4 linked regions of the Homo sapiens genome follow. The protein of the gene in region 1 purifies or fractionates together with the protein of each later gene. This does not show direct contact. Each region holds a gene or a part of one and is shown on either strand. Other genes may lie near its edges.

Region 1 (7,369 bases):
ACTGAAATTAAGGTATGCTGAAATTAGATGACAAGTTGAGGTTTTAATTTAAAACCACAAGCAGTTGAGAAATACAGAGTTTATGAACTTAGGGGGAAAATGACATAAAAGCTACCTTACACAGTAGACAATATGAAGCTGTGCAATTAAGAGGAAATTATGTAGCCTAAGTGTTTTTCAAATTTTCATTCACTATTTAAAGCCTACCATACAGTATTTGATAAATTATGATAAATCATTTTATTCAAAGAGCAACACTGATGAACTTTTAAAATGAACCATTTATTAAATCAGACTGTTATTCTTAACAGTTATGTAAGTTACATGTATGTTTAAGTCAGAGTATTTCACATGGAAAAGTTTTTAACTCCTATAGGCAAGCAAAATCATATCACACAATATATAAGTGGGAAGGGGATACTGCTAAACATTCAAATAAGGCAAGTATATAAAAACAATAAAACAATAATGAAAAAATTCAAGCATTCCTTTAAGAGAATTCAACACTACAAGCTAAATGTACTTTCTGAGTGTATTCGTATAATCAAGGCAGTGTTTCTTCTTTTAAAACATCAGGAAATGGAATAAGGCTCATTAGTAGACACAGCTGCCCTCAAGATTTCAATTTCAGTTGCTTTCTTTAAATTAAAATTCACAAAGTACACAATTAAGATATATCAAAAAACTGAATCTGCTACTCTAACAACAGCTGTCCATGCTTAATACTTAGTGGTTTATTTGACCAAATTAGTCTTTTCAGGGGGAAAAAAAAGATAAGCCACTGTAAAACATTTAGTTTGAAATGTATGCTAATATTTTCCTTAGAAATCAAAAGTTATGGAGGAAAAGGGTCATTTATTATAAGGAAAAGAAAGCAAAACACTAGAATGACCAAACATTTTCAAGGAACAAGCACCACAAAGGACATTTGCATTCAGTTTTGTAATATTTATCAATGCATTTTTCTTACTCCAACCAATCTACTTCATCAAATTCTGAATCATCTTCCGAATCACTATATTCAACAGCAATACGGCGAGACAGGATGGTGGCAACATCGTTTTCAATGCGTTCATGCTTAGCTTCCTGTTCACGCTGCTCTTCTACTTTGCGTAGCTGAATACCTGATACAGTGAATCCAAACCATTCATTTAAATCAAAATACTAGATACTAGATATTATTAATATTTCTGGAATAAAATCAAATACACATGAGAAATACTTATAGGAAAATAAAAAGATCAGAAAAGAATGTGAAGAAATCATACTGAGAGAGGCATTAAATCTTTATGTTATCTGTGTTATTAGTTGGTAAAACTTACCAGATATCCCAGTAGGTATCTACAGTTTATTTATCCATCATGGTCTACTATACCTCCCTGCTCACCACCCCCTAAAAAATTAATGAGGTGGTACATTTCTTCTATCACCTCAATGGTCAAATAAATTAAACATTGTTGAATATATTTTCTGTGGCTTCATTATCCATTGTATTTGAGGGAAAGGCACTATTATTCATTCTATATGCTCAGTGCCTGGCCTATAGTCATTGCTTAGGAAATAATGACAATAAATGAATGAATATGAGAAGTCTTTCCTTTGTTACTAAGGGAGGAAACTCACTCCTCTAAAGGCATCTGGTAGAGCAAGTGTCATGGATACCCAAAATGAACAGCCTTAACATTGAAGAAAATACCATTTTTAAAGGAGTTAATATACACATTAAGCATAATATAAAGGGTTTTAATTAAATGTTCTATAACATTTAAGTCTGATATATTAAATTTCTCATTCACTCAATAAACATTTTAAGGATACCTACAAAGCATGAAAATAAAATGGTCAAATGTGATATATTTTCTGGAAAATAATTTTAAATATAAGTTGGATATAGCTTTACTTTCTAAAGGCCATTTGTACACAAACATGATCACCTAAAATTTTATAGATAAGGAACACATTTTTGTCTTAAATATTTAGAAAGTTTCCAATGCTACTATAGCAATGCTTTTCATGGAGCTGAGAAAATTACCTTTTCGTATTGCTTCCAGTAGCACACTCCTGGCATCACTGATTACAGGTAGGGTTGATGGATGGCGCTTTGGCTCAGAAGCAGGTATAACTTGTGATGGAGGAGATGGAGGCATTAATGGAACATGGGGACCTGGGGCAGTAGATGGAGTTGGATGTAGCCCAGAGGGAGGATGAGCAAGAGCTGTAACTGTGACAGGTGATGATGGTCGAATGCCAGGTGGAGGCAGAGGAGGCGGTGGTGGGGGTGGAGGCAGCCCCTGAACTTCACCTTGTGGGAGTGGATGAACTGGTACAGTCTCACATACTGGGGCAGCTCTAGCTACTGGTGGAGAGGGCTGTACTAGAGGAGGTGCAATTGGAGGAGGAGCTGGGTGAAGAACTCCAGGGGCAATCTGAAGAGGAGCTGGAGGTGGTGGTACTGCTGGAGCTTGCAAAGCAGTGGCTGGAGGTGGAGGTGGGGGAGGTACTGGAGGGGGAGGAGTTGAAGTCATTGAAGCTCTTAATGAGGAAGTTGACAAGGCAGATGGAAGAGGTGGTGGAGGAGGTGGGGGAGTGGGGCTCACAAACACAGGTGTTCTGCCTGTAGCTGGTGACTGAGGGCGATTTTCTATCAAACCTGTAGCAGAACTGAAATGACAAAGAGATTCTAGCAAGTTATTAAAAGAGAAAAGCCTAAAGAGAAAATCTAACCACACAAACTATAAATGACTATCAGTAATTATATCAAAATGGATCCAATAACATGCTCCTATAGAAATTTAACATCTTCAACAGTATTTAGAAAAAAAAAAAGAACTAAAAGCACATCAATAAAAAAATTAATGAGTGGTGCTTTGGTTTGTAATAGTCTAAATAGTCTCATTCTCTCATGCAACTTTGGCATCCACTCAGATATTTTATGCTTACTTTAATAAATAAAATGCTCAATTCTATACTGACAGGAGTCTCTATAATGACTCAACATTGATCATAATGCAATTTTGTGGCAATACATGTGGCCAATACAATGCTATATTTATACTGAAACTATGAAGTCTCATCATATGCTATTTCAGTTAAATCAATGACAGCTAATTACAAACCACAAAAAGAAATTTACAGCTCTCTCTTTTCCTGAGGATGGAACACCAAATGAGTCAGTGATAGAAAATTGGATTTTTAACTGAAAATTGTAAAGCTGATCTCTATATCTCTATTAGAAAATTTCCCTAATATTTCTCTATTAGAAATTTATCATTTGGATAATAACTGACAAGATTAAACTTCAAAATAGCTTTACTGAAAGATTATTATAAGCAACTGCCAATCCTCTCTGAAATTCTTTAAGTATTTTCCTTAATACCAAATTAGTATTAATAATCACATCTTTGGTTCCCATTTCTTAGACTGTTACCCACATTCCAAAAAATCCTTAATTTTTCTTAATACACTGCACATGATATGCTTGATAACAACACTATAATAAAATGAAACAGGCTTTAATCTTTAAATTCTTATTAGCTAAATTTTCCTAGGAGAGTGTGTCAGCTCTAACCAGAAGATTACAAATAATGTCCCACAGACCAAATCTGACCTGCTCCCTGTTTTTATAAATAGAGTTTATTTCAACACAGACACATTCATTTGTTTATGTATATTCTATGGTGGCTTTCATGCAACAATGGCAGAATTGAGTACTTGTGACAAAAACTGTAAGGCCCGAAAGCCAAAAATACTTACTATATCGTCCTTGAAAGAAAAAGCTTACTGACTCCTAAGATAAAACATCATATGCTTGTTCCAACATACCTGATACAGGTGGGTATCGGTTTTGCATCTCCTGCTCCATGCATTGGTGGAGGTGGAGGTGGTTCATGTGGTCTGACTAATACCCTTTCCTCAGCTCTAGTCAGAAGCTCACTCATCTGACTAAATGGCAAGGCAGAAAGTGAGTAAGATCCATCCATATGATCCACGTATGTCTGAGGTCTAAAAGAAATATATAGTATCAGTGAATTATTCTTGAATTATTGGGAGGAAAGGGTTCTACATGAGATATTAAATATTTAAAGTTTATCCTTTCAATGCCAATATTTTAACTATTTTTAAGAAACTTTCAGAAATGTATTATATTAATCCTGCTTTTAAAACAAAGAATGCTGCTCACAATATAACCCTTACTTGTTGATTTAGAGATCTACTATGATGACCATCGGTTATTTTATTATTTTATAACAGAATACTAATTCAACTCACAGGATGAAAAGCATTACGTACGTAATTTAATAAACAAGAAAATAATTAACTTTTAGCAAATTGTGTGGAAAGCTATCTGCCTCTATTTAGTTCTTTACAAGAAGATGCCAATGACAGAAAGGTAGAATAGGAAAATGAGTTTTCTACTACTAGTATATCTCGGTGTGCTCTTAAACTTAAATGACTTCTAAAAGTCTTGCACCAGAGAGAAAGGCCTCCCAGATACTAGCAGCACAGAGGTGGCTAGCTATATTGTTTCTGTCCTTCTGCTGTTTTCAAAGGTGCAAGGGTACTCAGAAAATAGCTGAGTAACATAGCAACATGTGACTTAGATGTAAGCAAAATTTTAGATAACTCGAACATGTTAAGATTTATAAATATTTGCTAGTACATTCTTGGGAAAAAGTTGGATTTAACAGATGTGCACACAGCAAGTCAGAAATTATTGTATTTAGTGAGTCAGATAAGTACCTTAATTACTCAACTGTAGTAGAAATAAATGTCTAAAGTTTATTAATTTTTTAATGTCAATTCTTTCAGTAATACAGATAAATAGTATCTCTCAGATGTATATTTCTCCTAAAATAGGTCAAGATGTTGCACACTTATGGCCCAATCATTTATATGTATATTACTTAAAAGAAAACCTTAAGCTCTTTTCCATTAAAAAATCATATGACTAGGCTGGGCACAGTGGCTCACACATGCAATCCCAGCACTTTGGGAGGCTGAGACAGGCAGATCACTTGAGGTCATGAGTTCAAGATCAGCCCGGCCAACATGGTGAGACCCCATCTCTACTAAAAATACAAAAATTAGCTGGGCGTGGTGGCGTGTGCCTGTAATCCCAGCTACTTGGGAGGCTGAGGTGGGAGAATCGCTTGAACCCAGGAGGCAGAGGTTGCAGTGAGCTGAGAGCACACCACTGCACTCCACCCTGGGCGATAGAGCAAGATTCTGTCTCAAAACAAACAAACAAACGTATGACTATACCCAAATAAGTGTCTTCGTAGACAGATGCCAGTTTAATGTGTTTGCTGGTAGTATGTTATTTAGTTAGGGCCCCTGGCCACTAAGAAAGGAAAAAATCTTTTCTACAAAAGGGATCAATACTTTTGTTTGAAAGTCCTAATATATCTGAGGTGGGCAATGTGGCAAAGAAAGGAAGTCAGGGGAAAGTAAAAGGAACAAAACAGAACCCCTTCTTCACTCCTATTTTATATGCAATAAATCAACAGTATTTCAAAAAAACCCCAGACCCTAAACTTTTATTACAAAATTCTAGCAGACTGTGCCTGAAATATCGAGAGGCTATTGAGACGTCACACTAAAGCTAAAACCCTAAAGATCAGCCACTCCAACCACTTCTTTCTAAGATGACAAAACTAAGGTCCAGGTATGAAAATGACCTGCTCAAGGCCTGACTTTAGTAGGCTCACAGTGGTCAGGATTTTGAAATAATCTCTATATTTATAACAGGGTCTGCCTGTTCAACAGTTTAGGACTCAAGACTTAGAAGTACAGATACTACAAATAAAGCCAATGTTTTATCATTTAAAAAAAAAAACAAAAGTAAAGAAACCTTGTTTCAAAATGAGAGGCTGGGCCATTAGCAACTTCAATATGCTTATGTAAGAGATTAGCATCATCTTCAGCCAGCTCTGGACCTTGGGCCAGCTTCTGCCATTCTCGCCGCCTGTCATGAGGTGCTCTTGGCACTTTTTCTGGTTCATGAGGACGATCTAGATTTTTCTGCTATAACAGATGTATTGAAACAAAGTCAAATGCTTAAGCGCTAATTTTTAAAAAGGAGGTTATAACAATCAAATTAAACTCTAACATCAACACTGAAAAAGACAATGTCATCATAATATAGTAAAAGTAACACAGAAATGGTTTACTTGTACATTCAGTTAAATCTTAGCCAGTCTGCTGTAATCCCAGTTTCCTGCCATGTTTTGTTTAACCCCTAATTTGAACTGATGCACCAGACACAAAACAGTATGCCTAAAGAATACAATTTGAGGTCAGAAAGTCTTTCAGATGAAAAAAGACTCATGAACCCTTGCTCCACAGGCATTAGTTTGAAATTTCTACGATGAATGGCATTGTCTGCCCCTAATCAAAACGTAACAATTTACTAAGGTTATGTTATCTGGGAAGTAACTGATTAGCTAGCCAACACATTAGAAAAAAATCCAATTATCTAATTAACCGATAATAACTATATCACTCAACAGAAAACATTGTCTTTAAACAATAAAACAAAAAGTGATTCAAAACTGGGGGAGAAAGTACAGAAAGGGCTAGAGTAAGTGTAACAAATTCAAACGCCCAAAGCGGCCAAGCGGATAACATACATGAATGAAGCCAGTCGGGTGTAAGATGGGGCATGAGGTGAGCTAGACAGACATGTCCATCTCAGGCACTCTAGTTCCAAAATTTAAAAACCTCTGTGTTTGGCAAACAAAACACTCCCTACAGGCATAATCTGGCTTGCCAGTCACCAATTTGCAAATGTTAGCTAGAACACTGGGTTACCATCTAGCAAAGAAGACAATACAATGGCATTATACAGGGATTAGGGAAAGCAGAGATAGCTACAGGAGAACCAGAGAGATGATAAAGACAGAATTTGCCTCCTTCATAATTCAACCTAAATCTAACTTTGCTTCATCCTTCTGTGTTTTCAGTTATCATTAACATGAAATATAAAGCAGATACAAGTGAATTTTATTAGAAAGTGGAAAATGACAATAACAGAAATTTCATGTGAATATAATAACCTCTCCAAAACATTTAGGAGAGAAATGTTTAGGATGTGCTCTGTAGCAACAAAATACTAGCTTAATCTACGTTACCAATATCTGTACAAGATTCCATTGCTCCTTACCAAAATGTTCCTCTCTTCCTTGGTACACCTAACTCCTATCTGTTCTTCAAGATTCATTATAAGCTTTGTGGGAAGGGTTTACCCTGCCTGCTAGCTAAAGCAGATGCTATTTTGTGTTATCTAAACCCTTTATGCATACCTCTGCTATGGCACTTATTATGCCCTACTCTAATAATCTAATTGCTCATCTGCTCCCCATCAGACTGT
Region 2 (6,310 bases), on another chromosome or scaffold:
ATGGTGAAAAAATACAAAAAATTAGCCAGGCGTGGGGGGAGGCACCTGTAATCCCAGCTACTCGGGAGTCTGAGGCAGGAGAATCGCTTGAACCCGAGAGGCAGAGATTGCAGTGAGCCGAGATCACACCATTGCACTCCCAGCCTGGGCAACAAGAGCAAAACTCCATCTTAAAAAAAAAACAAAAACTCAAAAACAATCTTCAAAGCAATAAAAAGGAATATTAAGAAAACGAATTCTAACATGAACCTTTATGTAGTACAAGTTCAGGCTCTTGCATTTTTTTTTTGGGTAGGTCTCTTTCTTGTCCAGGCTGGTCTAGAACTCCTGGGCTTAAGCGCTCCTCCTGTGTCAGCCTCCCAAAGCGTCGGGCTTAGAGGCGTAAGCCACGCACTCAGCCTCTGGAAAGGATCTTAAGGGCATGTGGTTCACCAACCTCTACTCTTCCAGGGCCAGTCTAGGGTCCCAACATCTCCATCTTCAGCCCCTAGCTCTGGGCCAGGATGTGCACACACACCCCGATAGGCGCTTCTCCCTCAGAGCTTCGCCACTGTTCGACAGGTCCAAACATGAATGTCACCTCCACTCCTGCCGTATTTGGGCTCACCCAGTTCTCCCCTGGAGGTGGCACTCCCTGTCCCTCCTGTGTGGAGACACGCATTGAAAATGACTGTCTCCAACAACCCAGGACTTTAAAGCAAGGCAAACAAACACACACCAGGAACTTGTTCATCAAGTCTCAAAAACACCAGTATTACCAGTCGTATGATTCAAGGATTTATTAAGTCATACATGCAAAACATAATGCTAATTGCATTAGCAAAAGATCAATGTAAAAACACTCCACAATTCTGCAACTGTCAATTTAAAAAATTCTGTTGTAGTGGCTGAAGGGTCCCACGCTGTATTCTCGCCAGTGAGTTAAGTTGTACAGAACATCGTCAGCACTAGCACAGTTTACAGAACCTCACAGACCCAAAGGAACATCAATAGGCAAAGCGACTACAGGAGGCGTGTGTCCGCGTGGGCGAGGTAAAGAGGGTCAGTATTGGTCAAGTGACAGTGTCGGTAATCTGGCAAGACAGTGATGTTAAGAAGGTTCATAGTTTAAGAATTATCTAAAATATTTTAAAAACTATAAAGCTGCAACACATGATTTTTACACCTAGTTACTAGAAAACTAAGGAAAGCACTTATTAGCTCTGAATAAAGTAACATGGAAAGCACTTTTACTAATCGACAAAAAAACCTTCTAATGCATTATCAGAAAGATTTTATAATACAAGGAGGCATATTGCTCAGTCAGAAGGGGTTCTATAAGAAAAGCACTTACTAAGTTAGCGACTAACAGAACAACCAGTTTAAAGATGAATTAAATGCCCAATTTGGGGAGGCATGGCAGGTGTAAGAGAAAGGAAAAGCTTAAGAAAACATTTCCTGATAATACCAACCTTTCTTTCATCATCTACTGCATTTGACAGAAATTAACCTTTTAGAGTTTTTACCCGTGACACTTTCATTCCTTGTACAATGTAGTGTAAATCTCCACTTCGTATTTTGTCAAAATACTGTCTTTGTCCTTTGATCACACACACCCCACCCGGCACACCCACAGCTAAACAGAATTCTTCATTAGAGGAAATAGCAGTTCTGTTCAAAATCTCCGCAAAAGCTGGTCAGAAAACTCGCTATGAAATCACAAAGACTGATCCAAAGAGCTGAGCTGCTACGCTCACTCCATTACAGTACAATGTTATGTCGGGAACACGTGCTGCTAACTCACTGGTGAGTTCAATGGCAACGCTTCATTCGGGAGGCTGTTCTGCTTTACGCATCTGAGAACTACATAGGAGAGCAAGTGTCTGCACCTCCTAACTGCAGAAGCTACCGTCTTCTCAAAGACGAAGGTCTTTGCAAAGTTCAGTGCTCGGTGTTCTCGGCACAACAATGCAGTGTAGTTCAGAAGGTATTTTGGCAACTCTTAATCTGAACAAGAATGGGGGGGGCGCTTTTGAAAAATAAGGCTTTAAGAAGGCTTGTCATTTTAGGGCTAAATTTTAATAGAATGTGAGTCTGAACTCTTACATTTAGAACAAACAAAACCTTAAAATTACTGATTGGTTCAAAAAATGGTTTTATGGAAAAATTAATCTGTAACAAAAAGTTGGCATTGAGTGCGAAGGCTCCACCGTTGTTTTTTTTTTTTGTTTTTTTTTTTTGTTTTTTTTTGAGCAAAGCGTACAAAGGTTCCAAGGGACAGGACCAAGAACGAGGGGCTGAGACATTTACAACAGCAGGCATTTTCTCTTCCTCTTCTTCACGGGAGGCGGGCAGAGGACTGCTCGGATCGCTTCGTCAAACACTGTCTTGAGGCCTCGCTGTGTGAGCGCCGAGCACTCCAGGTATTTTACAGCACCTACAGGAAACACGACCACACGGCAATGTACACTCGACCCCACTCTCTTCTGATCACACCACCAGCGGGAGGCAGCTCCTGGGGCCCGGGCGCCTTCTGCCGGCTCCCAGCCCTGCTTCCACCTTCCAACGCTGACGTTAAGACCCACAGGGCCTTGCCAGCTGGTTCCCCAAGAGTACACCAGGCCCTGAGTGGGAGACACACACCCTCCTTTCCCAGACTGGACTCCAGTCTCTGTCACTACAATAAAAGAGGTACAAGGAGGAGGAAAAACACAGGATTCCATACCAATCTCCTTAGCCATGGCTAGACCCTGCGGATAGGTGATGGGAGTCAGCTTCTTCTCCTTCAGTTTCTCGATCGTGTCTTTATCATCCCTAAGATCAAGTTTAGTTCCCACTAGGATGATGGGAGTGTTGGGACAGTGGTGCCGCACCTCAGGATACCACTAGATGTGAAGAAGGAACAGAGGTTGTGACACGCTCCTTTACAGATGTCCTTCACCTAAATCACACCCAGCCGGCGGCACTCATGCCAGACACCTAACCTCAGGCAAGGCCTCCCCACGGAGGCTTCAGGTGGTTCCCACCTTCAATTCAAGCCTTGAGCCATAAGGAACATCTCAGGTGTTCCATTAGCAAGCTAGGACTCCCGGATCATGGCTGGACAGAACCACGACCGGACAGAACGGGCTCTACAACCGCAGGGGAAGGGGGGAAGGGAAGAGAAACAAAAGGAAGGGAGTTCCTCCCAAAGCAAATAGATCACTTTGTTTTTGGTAAAACAATTTCTTAGGGTCATCTGAGAAAATTCATCATCTGTTCAGAAATGAGAATAAACTACCTAGCCCAAGGTCTCAGGTCTGCCGCTATTATCTCCACTGAAAATGCCCCTACTGAAGGGCCTCACTTGTCATTTTCACTAAGAAGTTTGTGAAAGAGACTGGAGTAGAAAGAAATGGTCGTTATTTTTATTAGACCAATTCTGAGTGCCTCATTATTTTAATGAGACCCAGGAAACTTCTGAACCAGAACCTGAAGCTTTAAAAATCCACGTATTAGGCCGGGCATAGTGGCTCACACCTGAAATCCCAGCACTCTGGGAGTCTGCGGCGGGTGGATCACTTGAGGCCAGGGGTTCGAGACCAGCCTGGCAAACATGGTGAAACCCCGTCTCTACTAAAAGTACAAAAATTAGCCAGGTGTGTTGGCGGGCACCTGTAATCCCAGCTACTAAGGAGGCTGAGGCAGGAGAATTGCTTGAACCGGGAGGGGGAGGTTGCAGTGACCCAAGATTGTGCCACTGCACTCCAGCTTGGATGACAGTGCAAGATTCTGTCTCAGCCGGGCACGGTGGCCCACGCCTGTAATCCCAGCACTTTGGGAGGCCGAGACGCGCGGATCACCTGAGGTCGGGAGTTCGAGACCAGCCTGACTGACGTGGAGAAACCACATTTCTACTAAAAATACAAAATTAGCCGGGCGTGGTGGTGCATGCCTGTAATCCCAGTTACTCGGGAGGCTGAGGCATGAGAATCACTTGAACCCAGGAGGCGGAAGTTGCAGTGAGCCAAGATTGCGTCACTGCACTCCAGCCTGGGCAACAAGAGTGAAACTCCATCTCAAAAACAAAAACAAAAACAAAAAAAAAGACTCTCTCAAAAATAAATAAATAAAATAAACTGCTGATGGGCCAGATGCAGTGGCTCACAGCTATAATCCCACCACTTTGGGAGGCTGAAGCTGAAAGATCACTTCAACCCAGGAGTTTGAGACAAGCCAGGGTCTACAAAACCAGCCATACAAAAATTCTTTTAAGATTAGCCACGCATGGTGGTGCACATTTATGGTCCCAGCAACTCAGGAGGCTGGGGCAGGAGAACTGTTTGAGCCCAGGAGTTCAAGGCTACAGTGAGCTCTGATGTCACCACTACAACTCCAGCCTGGACACAACAGAGTGAGACCTCCGTCTCAAAAGAAAAAAAAAAACCCAATCATGTACTTAAGTAGCAAATTGCTAAAACCAATTTAAATAACTAAAAATTCCTAGGCTAAGTGATATTTTAAAGTATTTATTTCTGAGAGGATCATTCTATAACTTACATACACATTTTAAATCCCCACCTACCTTTGCACGGACATTTTCAAATGATGCAGGACTCACAAGGGAAAAGCAAATTAAGAACACATCCTACAAAAAGGAAACACAGGGAAACATTTAGACAACAACCTTAGAATGAAGCATGCACTTTGCTTTCTACATGTTGCTGGGAAGGACTTGTTGGACGCAGAGCGTGTCTACCAGTGGTGTGGTCAGACGCTTCCTGATCCACCCTTTCAGTTTGTCAGAGGGCTCCCAAACCAAACCCAGCATGTCAAGCCACCAGTTACTTATGAAAATGGGGAGCATGAAGGGAGAATGATGCTGGAAGCTCTTCAAGGATCAGGAGGATCAGACCAGACCCTCAGGAGGCTTCCTTTACGCCTAACTATCTAAAATGAAAAAATCAAGTATAAAGGTATGATTCCAATATTTCTGTAAAATCTGGTTTAGAGTACAAACAGTTTTAGATGGTCACTGGTTCCAATTAAACTGCTTCTTCAGGAGCTGCCTGTCACAGCTCCCAGCACCAAGCGGGGGCTCCAATATTTGCTACTTGAGCCCTTCCCTCCACAAGGAAGGAGGACTTAGTGTGTAAGTGGCACCTTCACAGCTGACAACCACCCTCACGCTGCCCTAGAGTCAGCACAGCCAGGGCCTCAGGAGAACTCGCTCCCGGGGCAGCTGTGGCTGACGCAGAGGCGCAAAGGGTGGGTGCAGAGGACAGAGTAGAGGGTGCTTCGGGGCACACGCCAAACATCTGCATGCTTCATCCATTCTGTATTTTGTGTCAAACCAAATTCAAATATTCACCTGTATTTAAAAATGCCCAAGAATTCTAAAATGCTAGATTTCTAAAATATTCTCCTGGAAAAAGGCAATTATGCTACTTTATGAAATGCACACAATTCCCAAGCTACACTTTCAACCCTCCAGCTGATACCTTGTACCTGAAAGGGAAAGAAACATCCCACACAACAGCTTTTTATAACTGGCATTTGAAGAATGCTGGCGCATGCACAAGCTCGTCCAAGAATCACCGCGGCACCCAGCACACCATCTCAAGCACGGTGGGGTTAGCTCAGCAGCACTGCACAGCCACGCCCAGACAGCCCCACCACACGGGACACCCAAGCGGAGAAAGAAGGCCCCGGCAACAAGGTTAGTCCTGCTCCGGCTCGGCTCACAGCCAGGTGGGCTTCCGGGAGGAGTCTCCATATCTGCATCTCCAACCAGCCAGGAGAGGGGCCCTCTCACTGTCCCCTCCTTTCACTTGGGAGGAGAAGATCACAGTTCACAAACTGCTTTAATTCAAGCCGGTGGGTAAACTATCACACTCTAATGAAGTTTATTTCATCAAGCAAAACCCCAACCTTGAGTGAATTAAATATAAAACACTCAAGGAGCTTGAGGCTTAATAAAAAATCCTAGGAAAACGAAGTGAAATGAGAGAACAGAGAAAGCTTGAAACTGAAGTGGACTGAAAGTTTTACATACGGCAATCGGCTTGTCTTTGCCCCGGGAGGTTATATCCTTACCGTACGTTTCTCCAACCTAGTAATGCATGAGAACTTGGTTTGAGTTTAGTACAGACTGAGGACAACAAAAATCAATATAACCTCTTATCGATTCTTTATTAGAATTTTGTCTTAACCCTCCGGAGAGATCCAAAAGCATACAATAGATTCTAACATATCTTCGATGACAAATGCCACTGAAACACTCCACGCTACCTGGTCAAAAGCAGGCGTTAAGTTCAACGATGGTGAAGACAGAGGTCAGGGAGATCCTGAG
Region 3 (7,315 bases), on another chromosome or scaffold:
ACCACATTGGCCAGGCTGGTCTTGAACTCATGACTTCATGTGACCCACATGCCTGGGCCTCCCAAAGTGCTGGGATTACCGGCATGAGCCACCACGCCCGGCAAAAGGCATAGATTTTAAGTGTGCAATTCAATGTGATTTGACAAATGTATGTAGTTATGTAGCCCCCAGTACAGTGATGATATTGAACATTTCCTTTACCTCTAAAAGTTCACTTGCATCCCTTTGGTGTCACCCCACCACTACTCCAGCCTTTGGCAAAGTCTGATCTGATTTCTATCACTGTAATTTTGCCTTTTCTAAAATTTCTTAGAAGAGGAATCATACAGTAGGTTATTTTTTTATTTTATTTTTTAGTTTTATTTTTTTCTGAGACAGAGTTTTGCTCTCGTTTCCCAGGCTGGAGTGCAACGGCTCAATCTTGGCTCACCACAACCTCCACCTTGTGTGTTCAAGCAATTCTCCTGCCTCAGCCTCCCAAGTAGCTGGGACTACAGGTGCGTGCCACCACACCCAGCTAATTTTGTGTTTTTAGTAGAGACAGGGTTTCTCCATGTTGGTCAGGCTGGTCATGAACTCCCAACCTCAGGTGATCTGCCCGCCTCAGCCTCCCGAAGTGCTGGGATTACAGGTGTGAGCCACCGTGCCGTTTTTTTTTGTTTGTTTGCTTTCTTTTTTTGAGATAAGAATCTCCCTCTGTCCCCCAGGCTGGACTGCAGTGGCATGATCTCAGCTCACTGCAACCTCTGCCTCTTGGGTTCAAGCAATTCTCCTGCCTCAGCTGCCTAAGTACCACGCCCGGCTAATTTTTGTATTTTATTTTTAGTAGAGATAGGGTTTCCCCGTGTTGGCCAGGCTGGTGTCGAACTTCTGGCCTCAAGTGGTCGGCCCACATTGACCTCCCAAAGTGCTGGGATTACAGATATGAGCCACTGTGCCCAGTCCGTGCCTAGCTACTTGAAAAAAACATACATGTTGTAGAGAGAGCCTGTTGCTCAGACTAGTCTCAAACTCGTAGGCTCAAGTGATCCTCCTGGTTCAGCCTCCCAAAATGCTGGGATTACAGGTGTGAGCCACTGTGCCCAGCCTTTTGGCTTGTTTTAAAAAACTGGTTTGTCATCTTATTACTGAACTGTAAGAGTTGTTTATATATTAGGGTACAACTCCTTTATCAAGATATTTGTTTTGCAGATATTTTCTCCCAGGTTTTGGTTTTCCTCGTCTTCCTTCTTTCTTTTTCTCCTCCTCCTCCTCCCCCCGCTCCCTCTCTCCCTCCTCCTTTTTCTTTTCTCCTCCTCCTCCTTCTTCTCCCTTCTCCTCCTTCTCCTTTTTCTTCCTCCTCCTCCTCCTCCCCCTCCTCTTCCACCCCTTTCTCCTCTCCTTCCTCCTACTCCTGTTCCTCCTGCTCCTGTTCCTCCTCACCTTTAAGGCATGAGGGATAAGTTCTTTTAGTGAACTTTACATGAGCCACAAATATTTGTACAAGTTTGCACTGTCCACTGGATTTTGGAAAGATCACTGTATTAGTCCATTCTAGCACTGCTATAAAGAACTATCTGAGACTGGGTAATTCATAAAGAAAAGAGGTTTAATTGGTTCCTGGCTCTGAAGGCTGTACCAGAAGCATAGCTGCTTCTGCTTCTGGGAGGCTTCAGGAAGCTTCCAAAATGGCAGGAAGGCAAAGGGGAAGAGAAATGTCTCATGTGGCAGGAGGGGAGCAGGAGGCAGGCGGGGAGGTGTCATATACATTTATTTCATTTTTTAGACATGGTTTCCTTCTGTCACCCAGGCTAGAGTGCAGTGCTGTGATCTTGGCTCACTGCAATCTGTGCCTTCCAGGCTCAAGCAATCCTCCTACTTCAGCCTCCCAAGTAGCTGAGTCTACAGGTGCTCACTACCACACCTGGCTAATTTTTCGTGTTTTTTGTAGAGACGGGTTTTTGCCATGTTGCTCGGGGTGGTCTGGAACTCAAGCGGGAGTAGTTCGTCATGTTGGTCTCCCATTTTGGGAGTCAAGTGGATTCTCCCACCTTGGTCTCCCAAAGTGCTGGGATTACAGGCACAAGCCACTGCACTGGGCTGTCATACACTTTTAAATGACCAGATCTCAGGAGAACTCACTCGAGATCATAAGGAGAGTTCCAACAGGATGCTGCATAACCATTCGTGAGAAATCTGCTCCATGATCCACTCCCGCTTCCCCCAGGTCCCAACTCCAACATTAGGGATTACAATTCAACATGAGATTTGGCAGGGATGCAGATCCAAACCATATCAATCAGTAACCTAGGAAACTTGACGGCATTTTCAGTGCCCTTAGCTAAACTCCTTAACCTATCTAAGCTTAAATTTCCTTATTTGATAAGGAAGGAAAATAATATTTATATTATCTGTCTCTCAGAGTTGTGAGAAGAAATCTGACAGTACTTTTTATTTGTATTTATCATCATCATCATTATTATTCATTCATTGCTCAACTGCATGGACAGTACGTTGAAAATAGTAAATTAGTATCACCTCCCTAATCACTTCCCCAATGTTGTTGAAATGTGTCAATATTTGAATATATACAAACTGAGTGATTTCTACAGTTAAACCTCAAGTAGAGACCAAGATCAATAATACATTAAATTTTAATAACTTGGATTAAGTCGTGTTTGGGTTAACGATAAATATCAAAAGATAACTATTACACCTATTCCAGATAATAAATGTATTACTTTCCATAATATCTGGAATAGGTATAATAGTTATCTTTTGATAGATTCCTTGATGGAGAATCTGGTGGCAAGGGGAAGTTAACGTTTTTAGTAGGAAACTGAGTTTTTCCTTTCAGAGGTCGAAGAGGGAAACTGGTTCCCTGGGGCCCTGAATAAGGCCCCAGTAAAGGCAATATTCAATAAATACCTGGTGCTGGCAATTTTTAATTTGGTTGAGTGATGTTTTTACTCCTAGTTATTTTGATTCTAAATGACTTTATGGAGATACATGAACATATGTCCAAAGTCTTTGGACAACACTTTTCATAGCTGATTATATCCGAAGCATTTAATGTTCCTGTTGAAGTGAAGAGCTTGAAATATAGGGCCTTTTGAGACTATTCCAAAGCAGGTGATAAAAACAAAACAAAACAAAAATCCAGGAGCAAAAAACGAAGGATCAGGGTGGGTGGCTCATGATTGTAATCCTAGCAGTTTGGGAGGTTGAGGCAGAAGGATTGCTTGAGGCCAGGGGTTCGAGACGAGCGAGGGCAACATAATTTGATCCCTGTCGCTATAAAAAATTAAAAAGCTCAGCCAGGTGTAGTGACCGACGCTTGTAGTCCCAGTTACTCTGGAGGCTGAGGCAGGAGGATCGCTTGACTTTAGGAGGTCTAGGCTGCAGAGACCCATGATTGTGCCCCTGTACTCCAGGCTGGGTAACAGTGAGATCCTGTCTCAAACAAGCAAACAACTCCCACCCCTAAAAAAACGTGCACATGACCTTAAAAGTGTAGGAAGATTACATGATAAGGAGAGTCAGAGAAAAGAGAAATTAGGACAGGAAAGCACTACAAGCTATGTATGTTTATTTTATAATTGAGTCTTTAAGGGTACGGAGTATTCGTACTCAACTTGTACCCCCAGTGTCTAGTACGCTGCTTGGTAAACAGCTGGCAATCAAGAAATGTTTGCTAAATTTTAAATGAATTGATGGGGGCGGAACTTCAGAAAGTAAAGCCTGACTCGCTTTATTTCTAAGAAGGCAGAGGAAGTAAAAATCTAGTTTTCCGTACTCTGTCCCCTTTTTAATCCTTCTCTGAATGGGTGTCCTTGATTCACTGACATTTCCTAATTAACCAAGTTCTGCCAAGTTTCACATGAAACTTGGGGAACCGATTTCATTCCCCCAGTATCACCCTGTGGCGCCACCTTCCGGAGCTGTGAGGAAACTCCGGACTTCCCCCCAACACCGCCCCCTCCCTCCACCCTCGGTCTCCGCTTTCTGCGCTCTGCCGCGTTGGTTTTCGGAGGTGTCTGGGCGCATGCGCTTTGGACGGGCCGCCTAGCCTAGGAGAGACTACAATTCCCAGAAGACAGTGCGAAAGAAAAAAAAAATCCCGCGGTCCGTGGGGGTGGGAGAAATAAACGCTCGCGAGAGAACGAGGTTCAGGCGGCTGCACGAAGGGGGTGGAGGGGGGCTGGAGAGAGTGAGGAGGAAGGGGAGGAGGTGCCGTCCCACAATACCAGGCGGGAGGGCGGGTAGGCGGTTTGTATCCGGGCTGTGAGGTGCTCGGAGCCTCGGCGGACCTTGCTGCCTCTGTCTCTTTAACGCGAGAGGAAGCGATGCAGAGGGGTGGAAAATGGCAGAGCTGCAGATGTTACTAGAGGAGGAGATCCCGTCTGGCAAGAGGGCGCTGATCGAGAGTTACCAGAACCTGACTCGGGTGGCAGACTACTGTGAAAACAACTACATACAGGTGAGGCGCTCTGGCGGCCGGCGGGCGCTGGCCGGGTCGAGGACCCGCCGGAGTGACCAGCCCACTGGGCGGGGTGGGGAACTGCCCTGACCTCAGCGGCTGCCACCAACCCGAGCCCCTACCGCAGCCCCAACCCCAGCCCCAACCGGGGACAGAGCGAGTGGCCGGGCTGAGGGAGTCGGGCTGCGATACAGGAAGTGGCTGTGGTGGTGGAAACCGATAGAAGGGGAGAGAGAAAATGGGCGAGGGAGCCGGGAGCCCGCCGCTGCCGCAGCCCGGCGCCCCCCTCGCGTCCGCTTCCCCCAGGGCCCGGCCACCGGGGTCGCGCGCCCCCCAGGTAGCCTCCAGTCCGCAGGGCTGGAGTCCCGGAATACCCCCGAGCTGCCGCCGCGCCGCCTCTCTGCGCCGGGAGAGGAGGTCCAGGACGGGAGAGGGGAGAGGAGAGGGCAGGGACGAGGCTGAAGCCGCAGAAGGGAGAGGACCAGCGGGGTGTGTGTTGTGTGTCGGCGGAGGGTGGGGTGGGGGCGATTATGTCAGTTTCAGCCCCCAGAGGGTGTGTCTTTTATTTATTTATTTATTTAAAAAAAATTTGTCATGAGTCACATTACACCGACCTCCCGGAGGAGAGGAGGAAGCGGGTGTGGGGAGTGAGGGAGGGCGTTTGAGAGAAGTTCATCTTAAAATTCCTTTAATTGAAGGTTTGTAAATCTGTCTGCTTGTCCATTTTCAAGTCGGGTTTTTTTTATTTTTTTCCCCCTCTCATCGTTTTCACTTCCGCCCCACCATAATGTATTCTAAGAGGTTGTTAGGGCTGCTATCATTAATTATCAAACACGAATTGTTCTTAACTCCTTGGAAAAACGGCTTACCCTCCCTTCTCCCAAAAGTTCTTGAGCTGTAGGCTTCATAAGTAACTTAAAATAGACTGGTGTCATCGCCGGTTGCTTATTTTCTGAGGTTTCTCTCTTAACAAGCTAAGTAAATGTATAGTATGTGAATCCAAATACAGAAACGAACAGAGGTAGCCTCTGAACTACAACGTAAAAATATCTGTTATTGTAAATTAGAAAACTCTTGGGACTTTGTGACAGATGCTTGTTTGTTCGTTTCTCTTTGGATGATTGGAAGTGAATTGTGTGTGGTAGTTTGTTTTGAAGATCTTTAACTGTGTAAACCAACAGTTTGCGCTAGAAACAAAGTAGCACAGTCCTTTGTATAAATATAAAGGCACCAGGAATGCTCTTGCTTTTGGTAAGGCAAGGCCAAAACGTGCTTTGAAAGGTTAGGGTTATTGCAATTCAGAACTAAATTGTTTATAGAAATGTCTCCCATGTGATTATAATTTTTAAGAACCGATGTTTCTGTGTTGGCAAATGCTTCCCCTCTTTATTTTTAGAGGGAGATGCTGTTTTCAGAATGTTTTGAATATTTCTCAGTTTTCATGTTAGTAACATTGTATCTTCAGTAGCACTACTCGGAATTTATCTTCACAATTTTTTTTTCAAGCTTTCACTTTAGGAATTCTCCTGATAAGTGAACTTGTTGAATGCCTGCCACATCTACTGTATCACTTTGTGCAAACTTTATATTTAGCCCTTCGAAAAACTTTTAAAAATCTAGTAGGGATGTGGATATGGTTTGCAAATATAAAAGTGATCTCGTAGTTTATCGATATTAAAAATAGGCAACTTTTATTCAACTTAACATGAAAAGCCTTGAAATTGAGGAGAACCTTAATTTGCTGAAAGTTTTAAAGATTTTTGAAAGCCAAAAGGAGAGCACAGTAAGTTTAATTTCTCGCTTTCCAGAAAAGTTATGTGTTCTCTGTAGAAGTCAGTAGATAAGTGCTTCATACAGGGGTGGCTCCTTTTTGTTTTGCATGTTGGGAAATCTGACAAGTATATAGTGTGGTAACTATGTGTTGGCAACTGTTAGTAACTGTAAACGTGTTTTAACCTGTCTGTGTACTATTACTTTTTCAGGTAGTTGTATGTTGTAATGCTTTTTTTTTACCCCTCTCTGACCCCTTTCCTTTACTCCTCTTGCTACAATCATGTAACTTTGAAGCACTTTAAAACTTCATTGCTAATATCTCTAATTAAGTCATGTTATTTTTCATACAGTCTCTCACTTTATAAAATGTTAGTGCCATGGTGCACGAATAGCCACAGTCAGTGGCCCCGTTTTTTTTTTTTTTTTTTTTTTTTTTCTTTTTTTGTGGGGGCGGGGTGGGGTATAATCCTAAATCTGACACCAGTGAGGTGTTTTGTTCATATTGGAAAAAAAAAAAAAGAATTCACGCAAAGCAATGATTATCTAAATACCTTAGTAGCCTTTATACGTTGGGCTGCATGATCCAGGCCACTAGTTGCCTCCCTAAGGGACTCAGACAGGGTCAGGCTCAGAAAGTGATGTGGAAGTTGATGTGGTAGGTGGTGCTGCTGACTTTGGTGCTAAGAATGGGGAATGAATAATATTAGAAATATCCATTAGGGTGTCTGTTGAGGTCTTTCTGTATCCTTCCTGTGACCTGATTGGGTTATTTATAACTAATACTCTTCCTAAATATATATCTCTTCTCAGTGAAAGTATGCAGTTCACGTGTGCTTTGAGAATTTTTAAATAAGGTGAGCTAAGTTATTGCTTGGGTGATTTTTGTTCTGAGATTCACTTTTCATTTCGTTTTTCTACAGTTTGAAAGTGCAGTCCAGTTTAGCTAAGGTGTGTAGCTGAGAAACTCTTTTGGCTGTGGTGCATTTAAGTTCTTGCGGCAGTTTATTAGTTCTTTGGTTCTGTTGACTTTTAACTAGTAGGTTGTATTATTAATAGCAAAACATCTGAAAAGATTCTACTACA
Region 4 (3,010 bases), on another chromosome or scaffold:
TGGTTTCAATATAACTCATTTAAAAATTTATGCCACAGTCCTTATAATTGGAAAAATACTGGTGCCCAGGTTTTCTTGGAGTTATCCAAGCAGCTGCGCCCCTAGCTGGGATCTGGTACCTGGACTAGGCTAATTACAGCTTCTCCCCAACAGGAAACTGTGGGATTTGAAAAGGAAAGGGAAGGGAAAACAGAGAACCTAGTGGTCTACCAAGTGGTTGGCAACTTTCCCAATGTCTGCTTACTCTGAGGCTTGGCACTGGGGGCCAGGGCCTGCCCCAGGGCTCCTGGAATTTCCCTTGATCCAGCTAGGCTGGGACACTCCCTAAATCAGCTGCGTGTTGTTAGCATCAGGCAGAATGAATGGCAGAGAGTGATTCTGTCTTCATAGAGGGTGGGGTACTTCTCCATAAGGCATCTCAGTCAAATCCCCATCACTGTCATAAATTCAAATAAAATGTCTGAACAAGGGTGTCTGGATGTGAGCTGGACCATCTCAGGAGAGAACACAAGTGTGAGGCAGCTGCTGGCCCCTCACCTAGTCTGGGGTTCCTTTACCCTGTAATGGGGGGTGGGGGGTAGAAGATGGACAAGACACCTTAACAGTCCCTTTGGCAGTACTAGGCAGAAGAGGCCCATACTTGGGTCCAATGTGTGCAGCAGGCAAAACATTTTCCCTTCTAAATGTGGGCCCAGACCACTGCCCTGTCCCCCCCACATTAAGAAGCAGTAGCCACAGCCAAGTTTCAATCATTTAATTAACATCTTTAAATGAAACACAGTTTTCTTCATGTGTCTCACTCAGGCTTCAGGGCAGAGGGAATGGATTTTTAGACATATCAAAGACTCAAAAATTTAAAGAAATATATATATGTATATATATACTTCTAACATTTTATGGAAATTAAAAATCAGAGGCTTTTGGTCTCTCCATTTACTCTAGGTCAAGCTCATTTACCCCAGAGGACAAAGAAGGGCTGCCTCTTCTAGACCCTCCCTTCTCCTTTGTCCTCTGTCCCACCCAGCAGGGAAACAAGCTCAGAAGATCCTAACAGGATAGAGTTCCAGTAATGTTGGAGGAGGGAGAGGGAAAGAGAAGTCAGGTTCTCTCCCACCTCCAGCCATTCCCAGGTTGCTGCCAGGGCCTGGTTTCATGCAGCTTTGACCCAGTCCTGGATCCTAGGGGGTGGGGTAGATCAGGAGCTCTGAGCAGAACAGTGCTCACTGATTATCCTCTTTCCCCAACTCAGTGGGCAGGTGCAGCGTACACCCAGCAGCACTCTCCACTGCCCACAGGCAAGGGAAGAATATTGATTGATTAGCTACAAGGAGAAGACAGTAGTGACTAGTGGAAAACACCCTGGAGAGGGCCAGAGGAACCTGGCTCTCACCACATCCCCTCTGTTCCCAGCCTTGGTGAGGGGGCGGGGAGGTCATGTCAACCTCTCTCCTTGGTGGTGAAGCTAAAAGCAAGGTTCCTTGCCAGACTCAAGCCCAAGTCACTGTTAAGGAAAGAGGATCAAGAAAGAAGCGGTGGCCCTGGGGGGCAGCCACGCTGCTGTGGACCCACAGGGGCCAATGGGGAAGCCAGCTTGCCTAGACAGGTGGCACAGGCTGAAAATAGAAAGGTTAACATTCCCGGAGAGTACAGTAAGAGAGGCTGATACCTAGGGGACCACCACCCAGCCTGCCCTAGAAGCACTGGGTGCCCCTCATTGACTAGAGAAGACTTGAGTAAAATGCACCTGTGGCTTCCCATCCTTGTCACTCAGCGTTAGCTGCCCCCAGTGGAACCACCTGTGCTGAAAGGCAGCTGCAGAAAGGACATGCACCGAAATGAGGAGAGAGAAAGGTCAGAGAATGAAGTGTGGAGGGCCAGGCCTGGGCCCACTGCTCAAGGAAGCTCCCCCCCTCCAGATGCTCCCTTCCATCCACCTCCTCAGTGCTTGCTCAGCCCAAAGGCTCCTGCCTCTGAAGTGCTGGGGGCCCACCCACCCCAGTGTGGTCAAGGAGGCAAGGGGCAGGTGCTTGACACTGCCAAGTGCCCCGAGATGACTCTACTGCTCACCCATTTCTTTGGGCCCTGGCAGTCTCCTACTTGTCCCCAGCATGGAGCACCTGGCAGAACTGGAAGGCAGGAGGGTGGTTGGTGAGTTGAGGCACAGGAAGGCCAATCCCCTCTGCACCTTTTGTGCTTTGGAATTCCACAGCCCCACACCTGCCCCCAGCCTAGAGAAGCCTGTGGGAACACAATGACTTGGCCACCTTCAGGAACCAAGAGGAGTAAACTGGACTGGGCAGGAGGGCACAGACTGGTCCCAAGCTATGGGCTGACTGCCGGGGATGGATTCTGCTGCCATGTAAACAGGCCCTTGGAATGCAACTTCCTGGGCCCTGGAGGATGGCCATGCAGCCACTTTTCAAAAGTGCTTTGATTCTGGACTATAGTATGTGCATGGTTTGGACATGAAAAAAAATGAAACTCAGGTGAGGTGTCCTGCTCCCAACTCTGCAGCCTCAGGGCCAGCAGGGGGCGCAGCCACCCTCTCCCGCCAGCTACCCACTTCAAGATGAGGCTAAGGCCAAGACTGAAGCGGCAACTGCCAGAGGTGAACCCATTCGGGAAAAGGCATGAGCGCAGGATGACTCTGAGGACAGGAGCAACACCAGGCTTGCATAAGTATCGAAGGCCGTGGAGGTTAAGGCTGCAGGCGCCCTCTCTATTAGGTTGTGTCTGCTGTATCCTCTCGTCCTTGGAGCTGCTCGGGTCCCTGAGATTGTGTTTCTGGGATGGGTCAGCAGTGCCAGTGAGGTGCCTGGTGGTCAGGCCAGCTCTTTCTGTGAGTCTGGGGGAGAAAAATAAGAGACACTTAGCAAGGGGCCTCCTGGCTTGGTTCTGGCACTAGGAGCCCAACAAAGCATACCCTCACCCAACCTTCTTACCGCTTTGATTTACTGACAGTGCCCGCAGCACTGGGCTGGACACCCTACACATGTTCAGACACTATAAT

What was found.
Region 2: the proteins of WASF1 (region 1) and RAC1 purify together in Homo sapiens (affinity purification with western blotting; 3 studies listed by BioGRID and IntAct, with this or other methods). This does not show direct contact.
Region 3: the proteins of WASF1 (region 1) and ABI1 purify together in Homo sapiens (affinity purification with mass spectrometry; 6 studies listed by BioGRID and IntAct, with this or other methods). This does not show direct contact.
Region 4: the proteins of WASF1 (region 1) and NHSL3 purify together in Homo sapiens (affinity purification with mass spectrometry; 3 studies listed by BioGRID and IntAct, with this or other methods). This does not show direct contact.

Annotation. Positions count from the first base shown.
Region 1 is NC_000006.12:110,099,556-110,106,924, forward strand, and holds the end of WASF1 (actin-binding protein WASF1), read right to left. Parts: intron 6,025-7,369; coding exon 5,852-6,024; intron 4,003-5,851; coding exon 3,823-4,002; intron 2,662-3,822; coding exon 2,033-2,661; intron 1,125-2,032; coding exon 967-1,124; 3' UTR 264-966; downstream 1-263.
Region 2 is NC_000007.14:6,398,422-6,404,731, reverse strand, and holds the end of RAC1 (ras-related C3 botulinum toxin substrate 1), read right to left. Parts: intron 6,071-6,310; coding exon of another isoform or gene 6,014-6,070; intron 4,607-6,013; coding exon 4,544-4,606; intron 2,865-4,543; coding exon 2,705-2,864; intron 2,417-2,704; coding exon 2,286-2,416; 3' UTR 765-2,285; downstream 1-764. UniProt on the Homo sapiens protein: Plasma membrane-associated small GTPase which cycles between active GTP-bound and inactive GDP-bound states.
Region 3 is NC_000010.11:26,857,891-26,865,205, reverse strand, and holds the start of ABI1 (abl interactor 1), read left to right. Parts: upstream 1-4,247; 5' UTR 4,248-4,342; coding exon 4,343-4,459; intron 4,460-7,315. UniProt on the Homo sapiens protein: May act in negative regulation of cell growth and transformation by interacting with nonreceptor tyrosine kinases ABL1 and/or ABL2. May play a role in regulation of EGF-induced Erk pathway activation. Involved in cytoskeletal reorganization and EGFR signaling.
Region 4 is NC_000001.11:32,772,700-32,775,709, reverse strand, and holds the end of NHSL3 (NHS-like protein 3), read right to left. Parts: intron 2,846-3,010; coding exon 2,823-2,845; 3' UTR 740-2,822; downstream 1-739. UniProt on the Homo sapiens protein: Able to directly activate the TNF-NFkappaB signaling pathway.